2 separate regions of the Homo sapiens genome follow, and region 1 is linked to region 2. Evidence: fine-mapped QTL for protein levels in blood plasma. A gene starts in region 2. The other region holds a variant in brackets. All regions are shown on one strand. Distances are from middle to middle.

Evidence for each region. PIP is the posterior inclusion probability: the model's chance that the variant is causal. Protein levels are from antibody-based Olink assays in UK Biobank. Linkage for the fine-mapping came from a reference panel and not from the study's own genotypes, which makes the PIPs less certain.
Region 1: its variant is fine-mapped to the plasma level of the OSMR protein (UK Biobank, PIP above 0.99).

Annotation. Positions count from the first base shown.
Region 1 is chr5:38,877,196-38,885,195 of GRCh38, forward strand. OSMR (oncostatin M receptor) reads left to right here. Exons shown (of 18, transcript NM_003999.3): 4 at 4,398-4,569; 5 at 6,632-6,916. Among named protein-coding and RNA genes, the nearest start is that of OSMR, 35 kb to the left of the region's middle. RefSeq lists enhancers at 1,540-2,041, 2,042-2,541. The variant A/C (reference allele first, on the strand shown) is at 4,339.
Region 2 is chr5:38,842,061-38,852,079 of GRCh38, forward strand. OSMR (oncostatin M receptor) reads left to right here and starts at 3,952. Exons shown (of 18, transcript NM_003999.3): 1 at 3,952-4,327. It overlaps OSMR-DT (OSMR divergent transcript), which reads right to left and starts at 3,769. Exons shown (of 4, transcript NR_109951.1): 1 at 3,608-3,769.

The DNA.
Region 1 (8,000 bases), 34 kb after region 2:
AGCCTAGGACTGTGCTTGGGCCCTCTGTCAGCTCAACCAGGCTCCTGTCTTCACCCAGGTAGTGGAGGCTTTGGGTACACACATACAGCATGGTTAGTTCCTTTGGTAAGGCATACAAGTCACTAATTTTAACATCTTCAGTTACTTTCCATATTCATTATTGAAATTTGAGATCTGCGCAAGTTAAATAAAATTTTGACTCTGTCCACTTAGGATTCATACCTAGTCTATAATTCTACCTCTCAAAGGGCAGTTTCCCACAATGAGACTTATTTAGTATGATGATTTTCAACAACAGCAATACTTCTGTGTAGCTGTTTACTCCCTGCTATCAACACATCTTTCCACTATCTCACCTTATACTAGCAAGTCTGATTTTTGTATTTTTAATGGGTACACTTGTTGGTAATTTGGGCCCGGTAAAACATTGAAGCAAAGGTCATATTGAGACTAAGGATTATCTACAAAAAGAAAAATTGAGGTGGAAGTGCTGGAGGAATTGTGGAAAACTAGCACTTAGCACCGTTAGCAAAAATAACATTAACCATAGACTACATGGATCCTATTCTTTATTTTTCCAAAAGACAACTCATATCTATTATTATGTTACAAAAAATAATATTAGCCATACACCAAGTGGATTTTTTTATTTATTTTCCTAAAAAGCAGTTGTTCATATCTGTTTTCATATTTGATTCCCGTAAGAGTCCTCTTTTCAAGGGAAAGCAGCTAGTGTGGACTATTTCTGTAATCTTCTAGGGCTCAAGACCCTTCAGGGTAGAGTTTTGCCTTGTCTATCGTGTTGTCCTCACAACACCCAACCCAGCCTGACTACAACAGTGGAGAAACCACAGCACAGAGAGGTTTGTTGTGTTGCTCCAGGTGACAGAGGCAGGGTGGGATCATCCTTCACTCCTGTGCCCAGAAAGGGATGACAGTCACATGCAGCCCCCAGGCCATCGGTGGACACATGTCCTATGGAATAGATGATGCCTTGAGAAATGCTTGTCTGAATCACTCATGCCTGAAGTTGACGAGAACTATCCTCCTCCAGTTAAGGAGGAGGATGCTGCTTCTGTTTAGACCAAAATCTCCCTTATACAGGGAAGCTCCCTGTAGTGCAAGCCTGACAGGGCACTCTCATTCATGCTGGGGGCTGGGGGGAAGCTTCTGGACTCAATGTCTCGGACACCTCTGTTCCCAAACAAGTCAAAGGAAGAGCACTTGCAGCTGGACCAGAGGCACCGACCTGTCTCCTGGATGGTACTGGCCATTTGGAACCCTGAACTGCATGGTCCTGCCCTCCTGGGTCATGGTCCTCCCCTTCCCTTTGCTTTTTGATTTTGTCAATGGCATAGGAAGGCAAAGTAGAGTAAGAGCTCAAGCTTGGAAGGAGGCCAGGTGTGGGAGTCAAATGTCTCAGTAACAAATCAGTGACCTCTATTAGACTTCTGTGTAAATGTGTGTGCCAATTTCTTGTGACTTACTGATGTCTGCAAGGATCAAATTAAACCTGCCACTTCAATAAATGAAATGACCCAAAGACAATTCATCATATTTAAAGAAAAAAAATCAATGAATTGCAGTACTTAAGGAAAAGTTTTATCTCCTACATTAACAGGGCTGTAAAGACCACAAAGCAGAAGTTGAGGTTAAACAGGTTCCACACATAAATAGTGTCTGGGGGAAATACAACTCATTGCATATTAATGAAATGATTAAATCATTCAGTCCAGAGTTTTAGCCTGTGCTCCCAGATCAGGCATTGTGCGCAGTGTGGGAATGTCAGCGCTGAGCACACTGGAAAGAATGAGGAGGTGAACACACGCATAGGGTATTCTACACACGGGCTGTGTGTGCAGGTCACTGATGAGATGCTATGAGGTTCGGGTTAGGCCTCACCTTCTCCCACAATTTGGATAAAGGGCTGTTTGAGACCAAATATCCAAGAGGATAGAAGTTACTTTAGCAAGTAGAGTAGAAAAGAGTGCTCTGAGCAGGCCCAACAGGCATGAGCAGAGGCGCTGAGAGAAGGGAATTTCCAGGCCTGAAAGCCCGCTGTGGTGCTGGATCCCCAAGCACATGAGGACAGGGGCACAGGCCTAGATGCACAGGACCATGGAGTGCATGCTCAGGTTTTGTTTTTTTATCCCAAGGGCAATAAGAACAAAGGAAGTGGCAAGCTCTGATTTGAATAGCCGCACAGCGGAATGTGGTGGGGAACTGGGGCAAGGGATGTGTGGCCGCTAGGAAGCGAGCTGTAGGGTTCAGCCAAAGCGGAGATGCGGGTAAGAGAAGTGGCTGCATTTAAGGGACAGAAGGGAGGTAAAGTTCAGTCTGTGACTTGTTGGCATTAGAGCGAAGTTGCCATTATTGATGTACTTCCTTCTAGCAGGGGTCTGGGGGAAGAGAGGAAATATTTGCTCCTTTTTTTTTTTTTTTTTTTGAGATGGAGTCTCACTCTGTTGCCCAGGGTGGAGTGCAGTGGCGCAATCCCAGCTCACTGCAACCTCCGTCTTCCGGGTTCTAGCGATTCTTCTGCCTCAGCATCTTGAGTTGCTGGGATTACAGGCACGCACTACCACATCCGGCTAATTTTTGTATTTTTAGTAGAAATGGGGTTTCACCATGTTGGTCAGACCGGTCTCAAACTCCTGACCTCATGATCTGCCTGCCTTGGCCTCCCAAAGTCCTGGGATATTTGCTCTTAAATTTTAAAAATATTTAAGCAAAATGTACTTGACATTGCTCATGTTAAATAGTGAGGGTTTCATGGATCAGGACCTCACAACTTGTTAAGGAACATATTTTGTGATCTAGGAGTAAAGTAATGCAAGAAATGGAAATAAAATATAAACATTTAAAAAAACACAGTCTGCAGAGAGTGAGAAAGGAAGCCCACAATTAAATGCCCCCTGGGTGGACCAGGATGTTTTCAGCCCAGGGCTGGGTTTAATTCTGTCAGGGGCACTGTTTCAAGTTTGTGACCTGAATAGGGGGCAGACATAATTAGTAGAAGGCATCCGAGTTGCTAACGCCAAGCAGTGTGTGACATGTGACTTGTCCCATCCCCTTCACTGAGGACTTATTATTCGCCCTTAGAAACATGGATGCAGACTCGAACTCAGGTTCCCCCAGTAAGTGTCATGTGTGTGTTGTCTCCACCTTGCAGCTGTGGGGCAGGAAACAGGAGCGTTGGAGGAGGCACACTGAGGAGAAAGCATGCCTGGAGCTTTGGGGGACATGAAGAAGAGAACGTGGTTCCTGCTCCCTCGGGACCATGCTAGAGTCACAGCTGATATACCAACAGCTAGCCGCAGTATATAGGAGGGGCTCAGAAGGGGTGGAGACAAGAGGAATGCAGAGGAAAGAGCAAGAAAGCCTTCATGAAAGAGAAGGGACATAACCTAGGCTTGAAGAACAGGACAGATCCCCATACAGCAGGGAGTGGAAGACACCAAACCAAAGACATTGCCTGAGCAAAGACAGGTCTGAAAGCATAAGGCATATCCAGAAGTGTGGGGGAGGTGCTATGTTTGGAGAGACGATTCCTGCAAGGGACTGGTGGGTTGGAGCCAGATTATAGAAGGCCTTGCATGACAGGGCAAGGTGTAAACGGGCCTTTGAAGCCTGTGGAATTAGAGAATGGAAATGCCAGCATCTCAGAAAGATGAAGGCTAAAGGCTGTGTCAAAAGCCCAAATTACAGCTCAACTTAGACAAGCTTCCTAGAAAACAGTGTAAGACATTTTGTGTCACTGACAGCTTCAGGGCCTAAGAGTCTGACAGATGGAGCCCAAGAGATGGAGTGTGGCCATGTGGCCACCGTATCTGAAAGGACAAGAGACAGAAAACCAGGGGAGACTCAGAGAGCCATCTATCAACTTCCGAGAGAAAATGGAACTTCTGGTGTGCCATGAAAGACTGCTTTCTTGACTGAGATTTGACCATCCTAATCCAAACCTTGCTAAAGATGAATATTTTTTAAAAACAAACAATCTTTTTTTTTTTTTAAAGGATGACTGTGTTAATTCTCTACTTTTCAAGAACTTTCTTAGCAGATTCTCTGGGACTGGCACAGTGAGCACCTTCTGTCTCTGATCTGTTCCCCCAAGACCTGAGTAGCTTCTGTTTTCTCTCCCGCTTATTCCACATGAGTCCCCGGGAATTGGAAGACCATAGTGATTGGAAGCTGAGTTTTCAAAAGGCAGGAGGTCATAGCTGGCTCCCATGCGAGGCATCAGAACATGGGGAATTGACTAGCAGAAGTGGAATTCACTGGCACATATCGTGGACCTGCAATGGGGTCTTAGGTTTGTGCTTTGGGATAAGTCAAGTC[A/C]AGCTATTTTATAGGACAAGATGGCTATGTGTCTCCAATTGTTTTCTCTTTGCTTTTAGGGGAATTACAGCACCACTGTGAAGTGGAACCAGGTTCTGCATTGGAGCTGGGAATCTGAGCTCCCTTTGGAATGTGCCACACACTTTGTAAGAATAAAGAGTTTGGTGGACGATGCCAAGTTCCCTGAGCCAAATTTCTGGAGCAACTGGAGTTCCTGGGAGGAAGTCAGTGGTAAGAAGTGAGGTGGTTACAAGAGTGAAAAGGGTTAATATATTTTTTAATGAGGAGCAATAGTCAAATAGTGGAAATCTCCTTTGAGGAACCCTGGGTAGACACTGACATTATTTTCCTTTGGCTCCTATGGGAACTAAAAAACACAGGTGTGAAACTTGGCACTGGAAGATATAGTCTGAAGTCTTGCTCCTGAACTTACTCATTGAGATAGTTGTGCAGATTCAGGCAATTTTGTATTTGTTTTCAAAACATGTAAAGTTTGTGTATTATAAATGCTAAGTGAACAAAGCAAGACATAAATTGTACATATGTATTTATTTGAGCAACACAAAATGTGTATGCGTCTAGAGTAGAGGTTGGGAACATTTTTCTGTGAAAGGCCAGATAAGAGATAGTATAAGCTTTTCAGAGCATACAGTCGCTGTTGTGACTATTCAACTCTGCTACTGTAGTGTGAGAGCAGCCATAGATAGTGTGTAAACCAATGAGACAGCTTTGTTGATAGAAATTTATTTACAGAAACAGGGCCAGGCATGGTGGCTCACTCCTGTAATCTCAGCACTTTGGGAGGCCAAGGCGGGTGGATCACTTGAGGTCAGGAGTTCAAGACCAGCCTGGGAAACATGGTGAAATCCTGTCTCTACTAAAAATATAAAAATTAGCTGGGCATGGTGACGGGCACCTGTAGTCCCAGCTATTCTGGAGGCTGAGGCAGGAGAATCGCTTGAACCCAGGAGGCAGAGGTTGCAGTGAGCCTAGATTACACCACTGTACTCCAGCCTGGGCCACAGGGCAAGATTCTGTCTCTCACACACACACCAAAAAAACAACAGATGGTGGACTCAAATTGTAGCTCCCCCGAATCTAGACGGCGGGGTGGGGGGAAGGGGGGTGGAATATGGAAAAATGAAAGTGGTGTGTTATTTGAAAAATGAGATTATTTGCGCACGTTAAACTAATAATACTAATGAGATAATAATAATTGAATTAAATCTATGACCTAGTCACTTTTTAAAGTACTATACATATTTAGTTCTCATGTCAGTCCTATAAAAGGACTTCTTATCCTCGCTTCACAGATAAGGAAACTGAGGCACTGAGAGGTTAAAGAAGCCATGCAAGGTCACCACGCCACTAAGTGCTGGAGCTGGAACTCCAACCCAGACAGTCTGGCTCCAGAGGTCATGTGCTTAACTATTACATCCTACTATGGAAAGAAGGACACATACACAGGGAAAGAAAAGATATTAAAAAGATAGTAAGAGGTTGGGTGTGGTGGCTCACATCTGTAATTCTAGTACTTTGGGAGGCTGAGGTGGGCGGATTGCCTGAGCTCAGGAGTTTGAGACCAGCCTGCACAACATGGCGAAGCCCCAGCTCTACTAAAAATACAAAAAATCAGCTGGGTGTGGTGGCACATGCCTGTAGTCCCAGCTACTCAGGAGGCTGAGGCACAAGAATTGCTTGAAGGTTGGATTTTTTAAAAACTTTTAAAAATGAATGTTTTAAAGACCCCTCACACTTGAGGGACTCGCATTTCTGAGAAGGTAGGGAGAGATATGATCTCCAGTACAATGAAGAGATTACGAGGGATTTTGGAGATGCATAGACCTTGCCAGTCTGAATGTGGCTTTGCCACTTTCTAACTGAGCAAACTTTGGCTAAGTCTTACCTGACCTGTTGTTGTAAGGTACTAAGAACGACATGAGATAATGTACATAAACACTTAACATGGCCTTCAGCAGGGCTGGGACTTGATAGAAAGCAGTTACAATAACCCAGCAATAGCAATCATGCAATTATCAGAGTGGTAATAGTAATGTGCTGTCTGTGGCAGTAAGAGCAACAGCAGTGGTATCAGTGTAACAATAGGAGCAGTGGTGGAAAGGATTGTCTTGCATGCACCAGAGGGTAGAGGTTTGGCAGAGAAATTTAGGTTGCTATTTTCTCCAGGAGGTAGAAAAAGCTAAAGTTATCTGCTGAAGGCAAATGGATAACTTGTTTTAAGAGGCTTGAATTTTGAGTGCGATTCTAACTTGGCTATTTTTTTTTCTTGCAGTACAAGATTCTACTGGACAGGATATATTGTTCGTTTTCCCTAAAGATAAGCTGGTGGAAGAAGGCACCAATGTTACCATTTGTTACGTTTCTAGGAACATTCAAAATAATGTATCCTGTTATTTGGAAGGGAAACAGATTCATGGAGAACAACTTGATCCACATGTAACTGCATTCAACTTGAATAGTGTGCCTTTCATTAGGAATAAAGGGACAAATATCTATTGTGAGGCAAGTCAAGGAAATGTCAGTGAAGGCATGAAAGGCATCGTTCTTTTTGTCTCAAGTAAGTGTGCAAATTCTCTGTGGCCCTTTCTTCTCATTTCCTGAGGAATAGATTAAATCTCCTTTACTAGAAGACAAATAAACATTTCTACCCATGATCTTGATTTTCTTTTGTTTCCCAAGTTTTCTAGGAGAGGCTCTGAAGTCGATGTCCTTTAGTAATATTTCCAGGATTTCCTGTTGTTTTCTTGTCCTTACTGAGAGTTGTATTCCTAGAAATCAATAGTATTAAAGAAGACACAGTTCAGGTCATGACCTGGACCACTGGGAAAATACCCTTTTTTGCCCAGCCATGCTGGAATTACTTCGGGATCATGGAGGGAGGGTAGGAGCTACAGATTGGACAACCATGGAGTCAGCCAGGATTGTGGCCTAGGAGACCTGGGTTTGAATCTTCTTTCCCTGGCTGGGTGTGTCATCTCGCCAAGTTTCCTAGCCTCTCTGAGCCAGTTTCCTCCTTTGTAAAATGGGGACAGTGATGGTGATTGTGAGGATTAATGAATGTGGGTAGTGCCTAGCCCCAGTAATAGCTGCATGCAGTAGGAGATCAGCAAATGGAGGCCATTACTGTTCTTAACTGTGCAGTAAATTGGTTCCATCGGATACATTAGTGGAGTGGGAACATTTTTTTATATAGGTTTGTGTGTGCACAACTAGTGGCCTCCTGTATTTTGAGCATCTCCTTCCCTTGCACAGTAGGGAACATCTCCCTCCCTGCCTCCCTTGCCAAAGTCAGTCTCCAGTCTCCTGGATGCCTGGTTCATCTATGTCCCCTTAGCATGACCACTAAGGGCAGCAGTAACGCTGGGGATTTGGAGGTGCTTTGCCATTCCCTGAACACTCAGCTCCTGCCTGTTGAATTTAGCAGGTGTACAAATCTGACTGATTTCCTTGCATCCCCGAAGCATTCTGTGAGCCACAGCACCCGAAATGAAACATTGGCAGGCACTGGGGATACAACCCTTGTCAAATGGACATAGCATCAGCCACTTGCATAACATGGACCATCCATGCCCATGACATCTCAGAAAATCACAAGGGCAGGAAGGAGAAGGGGCCAAGATGAGGTGACCCCTGAAAAGTGA
Region 2 (10,019 bases):
TCTGAGGTGGGTAAATCACTTGAGCCTAGGAGTTCGAGACCAGCCTGGAGAACATGGCAAAACCCTGTCTCTATAAAACATACAAAAATTAGCCAAGCATGGTGGCGCGTGCCTGTAGTCCCAGCTGCTTGGAGGACTGAGGTGGGAGGATTGCTTGAGCCCAGGAGGCGGAGGTTGCAGCGAGCCGAGACTGCACCACTGCATTCCAGCCTGGGTGACACAGACCCTGTCTCATTTAAAAAGAGTCAAATGTGATAATATGCCAACAAAACAGAATTCTACAGAACTTGTCGATGAGGGTAATTGTAAACCATTATCCACTGCTTAGGTGATGAAGTCACTTTCTTCACAAAATCCCCGATACCTTCAAATTCCATCAGTTGGTAACAAAATGCTGCCATCTTGTAATTATAGCTATTTACAGTAGTGGAATAAATAGAATCATAATTATATTTCACAATTTACATAGCTGATTTCATAGATGTATGTAAACATAGATATAGAGATATAGACAAATATAATGTTCCTGACAGTTATAGAACTATTTTTCCTCTGAGAAGTTAGATAGGTTGGCAATACATTCCACTAATCCCTCCTCCATAATAGTTATACATATGAGACTTTCTGATGGAAGATGGAAGATGAAAGAGGATGGATCGAGAATCATTCCCAGGGTTTTAACTTCAGTGTCCAGAGGACACTAAATGAAGGCTGGCCCATTAACTTAGTAAAGGTTAAAGGCTGGACCATTCACTTAGTATAATAAAATCAAGTGAGCATAACTGAAGTTTGAATTCGGGCATACTAATTTCAAAGTACTGTCTGGAGTGCAGATGAAATCATTGCAATGGAAAGGAAGAGCTGAGAGCCATCAAGGCACAAGTGATCATTGAAATCCTGGATGTGAATATGATTATTCAGGGGGCCCTGGGGCCCTGGGAAACACCAACATGTAGGGGGCAAGTGGAGAACAAGAAGTCCAAAAATATGAGGGAGGAGGAAGTCAGGGAAATGAAAGAAGAATGGAGAGAGTATTGCTACTGAAATCAAAAGGAAGAGAGAACGTCAAGAAAGAGTGTTTAATGGGCCGGGCGCGGTGGCTCACGCCTGTAATCCCAGCACTTTGGGAGGCCAAGGCAGGAGGATCACGAGGTCAGGAGATTGAGGCCACCCTGGCTAACACGGTGAAACCCAGTCTCTACTAAAAATACAAAAAAATTAGCTGGGCGTGGTAGCCGGCGCCTGTAGTTCCAGCTCCTCGGGAGGCTGAGGCAGAATGGTGTGAACCCAGGAGGCGGAGCATGCAGTGAGCTGAGATCGTGCCACTGCACTCCAGCCTGTGTGACAGAGCAAGACTCCGTCTCTAAATAAATAAATAAATAAATAAATTAAAAATAAAAACACACACACAAATAAAAAAATAAAAAGAGTGTTTAACGAAGCAGAATAATATGTGCCTTGGCCACACAATCTTATCAAAACTAAGCAAGGATGGATATTTTAGCTCTTAGCTTAATAAGCCATTGGTATTTTTCATCTTTTTCCTATTAGTTATTTTCAGGATAATTGTTTAAAACTAACTTATGGAACATAACCTATGTATCAGTTTCCTAAGGCTGCCATAACACATTACCACAAACTTGGTGGCTTAAAACAACAGAAATGTATTCTCAATCTGGAGGCCAGAAGTCTGAAATGAAGATGTTGGCAGGGCTAGCTTCTTCTTAGGGGTTCAAAGGGAGCCTGTTCCGTTCCTCTCTCCTAGCTTCTGGTGGTGGTCAGCAACCTTGCCATTCCTTGGCTTGAGTCAGCATAAGCAGGATCTGTCTCAGTGGTCACACAGTGTTCTTTCTGGGTGTCTGTGTCCAAATTCCCCCCTTTTCAGAAGTACAGCAGACACTGGATTAATCTTATATGACCTCAGGTTAACTTGATTAAAGCTGCAAAAACATTATTTCCAAATAAACTGATATTTGGAGGTTTTGGGTGGATCTGACTTTATGGACCCAGTGCACCCACTGTTAAGGGTATAATCGCGAATTTATATGGTGCTACTGCATCTAGATTCTAGAATAACGTATAAATTTAAGAAATTAGAATGGTGCAAAAACAGATAAATTATATGTGGGCACCAAATTTTTACACTTCAGTCTCCTTCAATTGCAATAGGAGCCCAAAATAAGCCTCACTTTTTAGAAATTCATACTGGGCTGAATATTTTTATTTGACATCTCATTTGCTAGAAGAGAGATCCCTTTTAACTGTTTCTATAAAGAATAATTTTTTTTCTCAGTAAAATATAAAATCATAAAGACTTTCCAACTCTTGGGCTTGGCAGTTTCCATAACCATGCAGATGGCTAAACTAATGGACTCTTTAAAACTCTTCAAGTAATGAGAGGTGTGGCAAAGGACCATACATTTATTGAGACAAAAATACATTTTATTATCATCAAATATTTACTATGCATCATGGTCTTTGTGGCCCCATTAGGTATTAAGTGTATTAGGGCCTTTAGGCCTTTGTTTTAGGAAAAATAAAAAAACAAAAGGACTCTCAGCTTTCCTTGGGATGACATTGGGGAGGAGCCAGATATGTGAACAAACACAAAAGTAACATTTTAAAATAATTCTGACATTATTTTGAGTCATCCAGTCAATTCAATATAGGATTCTAAGATATGTTTATGGTCGATACTTGTTGATCACTCTTGGTTCCCTCCCCCACCCCCCTCCTACAACCTTGCTTTTGTGATACTTTCCAGGGTCCCCAAACTCAAACCAAACTAGGCTCAGCTGATCTGGAGCAAGGCCCCTTGCCTGCTGATTTGTCAGGCATCCAGACAGGCGAGGCTATGGGAGCTCCCGGTCCGAGGCTGCCTCGGAAGGCTCCTGTTATCCTCTAAGAGAGGTGAAATGCACCTTTCAAAGGCCCAGACACGGTAAAGATTGGATGGCATTTTTGGCCGGGCGCAGTGGCTGACGCCTGTAATCCCAGCACTTTGGGAGGCTGAGGCGGGCGGATCACGAGGTCAGGAGATCGAGACCATCCTGGCTAACACGGTGAAACCCCGTCTCTACTAAACATAGAAAAATTAGCCAGGCGTGGTGGCGGTCGTCTGTAGTCCCAGCTACTAGGGAGGCTGAGGCAGGAGAATGGTGTGAACCCGGGAGGCGGAGCTTACAGTGAGCCGAGATCGCGCCACTGCACTCCAGCCTGGGTGACACAGTGAGATGCCGTCTCAAAAAAAAAAAAAAAAAAAGGTTGAAGATTGGATGGCATTTTTAAGGGGAAAAGTAAACCATGTGTAGCATGTCGTAGCATTGGGAAATAAAGGTTTCGGGACTGTTGTAGCCGAAGAAACTTTGTCGGACAGGGCGTTTCTGGATAGAACGCGAGTAGGGGAAAAATGGGGACCGTTTGATTCGGTTCAAACACGTTTTCGTTGCTCTGGACGCCAAATGGAAACACGGCCAAAATTTAGTTAAAGGACTTCTCTTGCCTGAAGATTTTCGGACGGGGATCTCACGGGTTTGGCCTCTGGGTTGGGATGACAAGTGCCCCTGTGGGATACACAGCCCCAGGCCTCATCGGTCACTCGGCTTACCTCTGGTTCCGCCGGCTGGCCCGTGCGTCCTTGGCCGGGGCAGGAGCAGCGCTGCGCGCGGGGCACGGAGCCTCGGCCGCCGAGTTTTCGGTTTCCAAGTTTCCTTCCCAGGCCTCTCCCACTTCCTCTTCTCACCAGTGCCCGCCCGCCCGCAAAGTCCGGGTTGTGAGGCTGCGCCTCCCCCAGGATCGCGGCCGCCTCCCCCCGGGACTGAAGGGAGGGAATTCCTGTGGGTCCCAGGAGTGCCAAGAGTGCGCAGCAAGACGGGAAATTGCAAAAGACCTCACCCCTCTGCCCTCCCCCGCGGTTTTCCAGTAACTCCCGCCCCTCCGCGCTTGCCCCGCAGCTGATTCATAGCCCCGGCCCGGGCCGCCTCTGCACGTCCGCCCCGGAGCCCGCACCCGCGCCCCACGCGCCGCCGAGGACTCGGCCCGGCTCGTGGAGCCCTTCGCCCGCGGCGTGAGTACCCCCGACCCGCCCGTCCCCGCTCTGCTCGCGCCCTGCCGCTGCGCCGCCCTCGGTGGCTTTTCCGACGGGCGAGCCCCGTGCTGTGCGGGAAAGAATCCGACAACTTCGCAGCCCATCCCGGCTGGACGCGACCGGGAGTGCAGCAGCCCGTTCCCCTCCTCGGTGCCGCCTCTGCCCAGCGTTTGCTTGGCTGGGCTACCACCTGCGCTCGGACGGCGCTCGGAGGGTCCTCGCCCCCGGCCTGCCTACCTGGTGGGTGAAAACTAAATGATTCATTCCTTACAGGCCGCACAGTGCCGAGTCGCCCATTTCTCAGACTGTTTGAAATTCACCATCCCAGCGCCTTTTTCTCAAATGATGGTGGAATGTTTGTTGAGTGGAAAATTCCCACTTGAATCCCTCTTTCCTCTCTCCCAACACATCGTGTGGAGGAGTTCATTGCTTCCCCTACCTCTCCTCTCGTAACCCTTGACTCCCACCTGAGAGAGCCATTTTTCTGGGAATCCGTGTATCTCTCCCACCTGGTCCCTAGCGTAGAAGCGGGAGGAGCTCAAGCACAGGTGGAGAGAGGAATCCCCGGGCGACTCTGCAATAGCGTCCGTCCGGGGCGCTTACCTTCTTCTCCAGCCACTTGAGTGGAAGTGGCCCTCTACATTCTGGAAACCTAGGCACGGAGGGGTTCAGTAACTTGTCCAAGGCCATATGGCTAGCTGTGAGGGCACTGAAATCCGAGCCCGGCTCTCGCAGGCCAGGGCTTTACCCCTGACACCGCGATTCCTTTCTCGATAGTTCTTCATCTGCCCTTCATCCACCTACCCATGCATGCCTGCATCCGTCCATCCATCCTGCCTGCCTTGCTGCGGGAGGCACAGTGCTAGGTGCTGCTGATGGAGTGGCTTGGTAACAGACCTGCCTTGAAAACACTTTGGGAACAAGATATTCAAGAGAAGTAAATGGAAGGGTCTATGAAGGCAGAGAAGATAGAATTGAATGTAGGATACTTAGTTTGAGCTAGAAGGAATTCTGATGGAGGAGAAAGAAATTTTTAGGTTTTATTCCCAAGATTAAAACTGACTTTGGAACATGGGTCAAACTACTTATCACCTCTTAGTTTCCTTGTCTGCAAATAATAATGGTTCATACTTACTGTGAACCAGCCCCTATTCTAAGCACTTGACATATGCTAGCTCATTTAAGCTTCACGGGTGAGGCGGGTACTAGTTTTTTATTATATTTTATTGAGGAAACTGAGGCCCAAAGAGGTTTTGTAACTTTTCTAGGGTTACACAGCTAGCAGGTGACAGTATCAGGATTTGGGTTTGGAGTCTGCTCATGATCACCGTGCTGTAGCTCAAACTCTAAGACTGGGTGGGGTGTTTCATTATGGTCTTGCTTTGTCTCTCTCCTGGGCTGCTTTAAAATGCACTCAGAGCCCTTGATGTCCCCAAACTCCGCTGTGTCTGAGAATCATTTCTTGAGCTTTCAAAGCATCAAACTCCAAACACAGCCTTCTATTCAGAATCTTCAGGAAATACTCAGTTTGTTTTCCCCGTAGCATTTGTTCAGTGCCTCCAGTGGCAGGAAGCTCACCACCTCACATTTTATTGTAGGAAGAGCTAGTTCTCTGCTGTAAATTGCCTCCTTGTGACTTACATCTTGGTCCCAGTTCCCGTTTGTCCCAGCAGGTGTGGCTAAGCCTTTTGTATCAAAGGTGGCTTTGAGAGAAAAAGGCTGGTCTTGGGTGTTTCTTCCGCAGGGACCCGAGCCGCATTGGGGAGAACACATAAACACTGGTTCTTTCCCCCTCTACCCTTTTCTTTAACCTGAACAGACCAGGAACACATGCAGAGGTGTTCCTGGATCTCTCATGTTTTTGTAACCCTTTTGTCCTGAGGACAAAACCGAATCAGGAGAACTGTTACGGTTTTCAAAGGGGAATCAGTGGTACTGTATTTAACAAGAAGAAGGTGTGTATTTTCCTTGTGGGAAAGGACTGGGGCATTCATTGGCTGCAGTAGAAGAGAATCTTAGTGAGTGTGGTCTTGCTCACTTACAGGAACTGTGAGCCTTGGCCCTCCTTTCGCTGGGGGAGAAAATCCTTCTTGATTGCTTAAAAAATGTGTAAAATGGGGGGAAAAAAACCCAAACCAAAACAAATAGAATATCATGGCCTTGCTGGAGAAATCCCCTCCTCCAAGCAGGCTTCTTTGTAGCTACATGAAGAGAGAATTTCTTTTCCAACAGCTGTGTTGGTGGCTTCATAGCCTTCCTTCCCTCCTCATTTTAGTTGTACTGGTCGCTCTGCATTTGTGCACTCCACGTTGTATTCTATTTTTGTGTTTTAAAAATAATACAAATAATAACAACTCATTCTCACTCAATATAGAAGTGAAGTGAAATGTAGACGTGCCATCACCATCCTCCCTCCTCCCACTCAGAAGAGGGAAGGTTAAGTTTGATAATACCATTCTAAGGCTTGTTTTTCTTTTCTATAGTTTTACATAATACATACATATACATATGTTTTAAATATGCAAATTATCTTACTATACTTATTGTACAGCTTGCTTTTTCACTTTCCAAGTCTTAGAGATCTTTCCATTGTCTCTAGATACCTCTTTTGTTAATGGCTACGTGTTATTCTTTTTGTGTGTGTGTGAGATGGTCTCACTCTGTCACACAGGCAGAAGTGCAGTGTCATGATCATGGCTCACTGCAGCCTCGACCTTCTGGGCTCAAGTGATCCTCCCACCTCAGCCTCCTGAGAAGCTGGAACTACAGGCACATGACACCACACCTGACTTTTTTTTTTTTGTATTTTTTGTAAAGATTGGGTCTCTCCATGATGCCCAGACTGGTCTTGAACTCCTGGGTTCAAGCAGTCCACCTGCCTTGGCCTCCCACAGTGCTAGGATTACAGGCGTGAGCCACTGCGCCCGGCCAGCTACATGTTATCCTAAAGTAGAAATAGAATGTAATTTATCCATCCTTTCCTATATTGATGGACATTCAGCATTAGCAACGTTGCTTCAGAGCAGATCACACATTCATCTTCCTGCTCAAGTGTGAGTATTTCTGTGGAAGAGAATCTGAGGAGAGGTATTCCTGTGTCAAAGGGTTTGCCCCTTTTTCCACTTGATAGATACGAAGTGGAAGGTAACGATGTAACTTAATATTTTTGTAAAGTTTTAGACAGCTGATCCAATAGCATTTATTTAATAATTCATCTTTTTTCCAACTCATTTGAAATTCTGTTTTTATCATTAAATAAATTCCTGTTTGTAAAAGGGTCTGTGTCAGGATTCTATTCTGTTTCATTGATCTTTTTTTTTGTTTGTTTTTCCCTAAACCAATATTACTCTGAGTTAACTACTGTAGCTTTATAGTGTTTTTGAAAATCTTGTGGTATATATTTGTGCTTTTTAAAACAACTTTTTTTATAAATCACATACATTTTCTCTTTACAAATAGCCTGTCAAGTTTAATAAAATCCTATTTTTAATTAAGATTTTATTGAGTTTATAATTGTTAGCAATTTTTAATGCTTTAATGTCCACTTTGGTATGAGCTCCAAGCTTTAAGGAAACTGTGTCATGTGAACTTTGGTTAATGACTTATCTGATTTCAAATATTGGCTACACATCAGATTAACTGGGTCAGTTTGGATAAATTACTTGTCAACTTTCTTATCCTTAATTTCCTCCTCTGTGAATGGGAATAATAATATAATCCTTTTCTTAGCGCTGTTGTGAGGATTCAATTAATAAATGCATGTACGTCACTTAGCAAAGCACCTTGTAGAGAGTTAGTATCTTATACATGCTAGCTGGGATCTTTTTCATATTTATATCCTACTCATGGTTTTGCAGAGTGCCCTATTGGTAATAGGAACCAGTAAATATTTCCTTTATTTATTGGTAGTATCCTAAGAGACAAAAATATATCATATATTTTAAATATAGTAGTGTTTCTCAAACTTGAATGTGCATATGAATCACCTGAGGATATTATTTAAATGCAGATTCAAGAGGTCTAAGGTCTGGCCTGAGATTTTGCATTTCTGACAAGCTACCAGGTGATGTCAATACTGCTGGTCCTTTGTCCACATTTGGGTGTACAGTCTTGTACAACTATTTAAATTTATGCTGCTAGTGATAGTACTTCCTATTTGTAATGAATATGATTGAAAGCATTTTTAAATTGATTTCTTTTAAAATTACATGCTAAAGAACTAAATTATAGTTGTTTTCCTTTCTTCCTTCTTCTCTCCCTCTCTTCCTTTATTTTTGTTAAAAGAAAGAGGGTTGGTGAGATCGCTAAATAGAATACCTAGCTCTGTTCTTAGATCTAGAGTCATTGAGGCAATTAACTATCTGGATTATTTTAAACTGTTGACTTAAGATGAAGACAGTCATATAAAATATATGCAGCCTGAATATGACATTTAATGTCAACTAAAGAAAAGCACAATTGTAAGTGGCTTCTGCAAATAGAAAAATGTAAGACATAAAGAACACTTGGAAAAATGTAAGACAAAATAATTCTCAGAAAAGAGTGATTGAGGTTTCATTGTTCATGTGTAATGCCAGCTTTTGAGAAGATGTGCATCAACAGAAGTTACGCTTTCTTGTGAGTAAATTTTTCATACACCGTGGTATTTCTTGGTCACCTCTTTCTACTTTCAATCTCCCTAATGGGGGATTTTGAGCAAATTTACTTCATATATATACTTCAGTGTGTCTGTCTGTCAGCCGGGGATGGTAGTATGATTTTTCTACTCAGGACACTGGTTACTTTTTGCATTTGGAAATAGATCATTAAAGTATCTACACTCTCTCAGAACCTAAGAGGTTACATTTTCTGTACAGAAAAACACGGCATCCTCCCAGGCTGATCCAGTAGGTAAAAACTGCCAACCTTTTTCAAGTCTGTTCAATACCATGGGTTGGACTGGAAACACAAACACTGTCAACTAGTTTAATCATGTTGGGATATATGGTTTCAAGTGTGGAAATAAGGAAATTGCCACTTGCACAAGACTGAGCTTAATATGTTTAAAACATGCACACACACACGTTTTAAGGAATGCTTTATGTTGCAGAACTGTATAACTTAAAGTGAGTTATCTATAATTTCTCTTATTCTGCCCACCTCCCTCCCTCCATCTCAGCTCTAAATTTATAACTTAGTAAGTGGGTGTGTCTTTGGGGCTGGTTTGGATCCCTCAAGTAGAAGAGAGCAAGCCAGAAACACATGTGCAAGAGATTTACTGGGGGAAGGACTTGTAAGGGGAAAGGGAGTAACTGTAGGCACAGAGCCTTCAGACCCAGTGCAGGTGTGATGCCTGTGGAAGGAGATGGGGAGGAAGGAAGGTGGGAAGGAGTTGCTTCCAGCTGCAGCCATTGGGTGGGAGCAGCCTGGGGTGTGTGAATCTTCCACAGATCTGAAGGGGCAGTGTCTGAAGGCTGTCAGTCATCTACGCTCTCTTGAAGGGAGCACTGAGGGGCACAGCTGCACACTGCCACAGTTCTCTTTCAGAGATGTTCTTAGGTATATACTGTTTTGAAACTGACTTATTCACTGATGTGGTTTGGCTGTGTCCCCACCCAAATCTCATCTTGAACTGTAGCTCCCATAATTCCCTCATGTTGTGGGAGGAACCCAGTACGAGATAACGGAATCATGGGGGCAGTTTCCCCCATACTGTTCTCGTGGTAGAGAATAAGTCTCACGAGATCTGATGGTTTTATAAGGGGAAACCACTTTCACTTGGCTCTCATTCTTCTCTTGTCTGCCACCATGTGAAATGTGCCTTTCTCCTTCCACCATGACTGTGAGGCCTCCCCAACCACGTGGAACTGTGAGTCCATTAAACCTCTTTCTTTTGTAAATCACCCAGTCTCTGGTATGTCTTTATCAGCAGTGTGAAAACAAACTAATACAT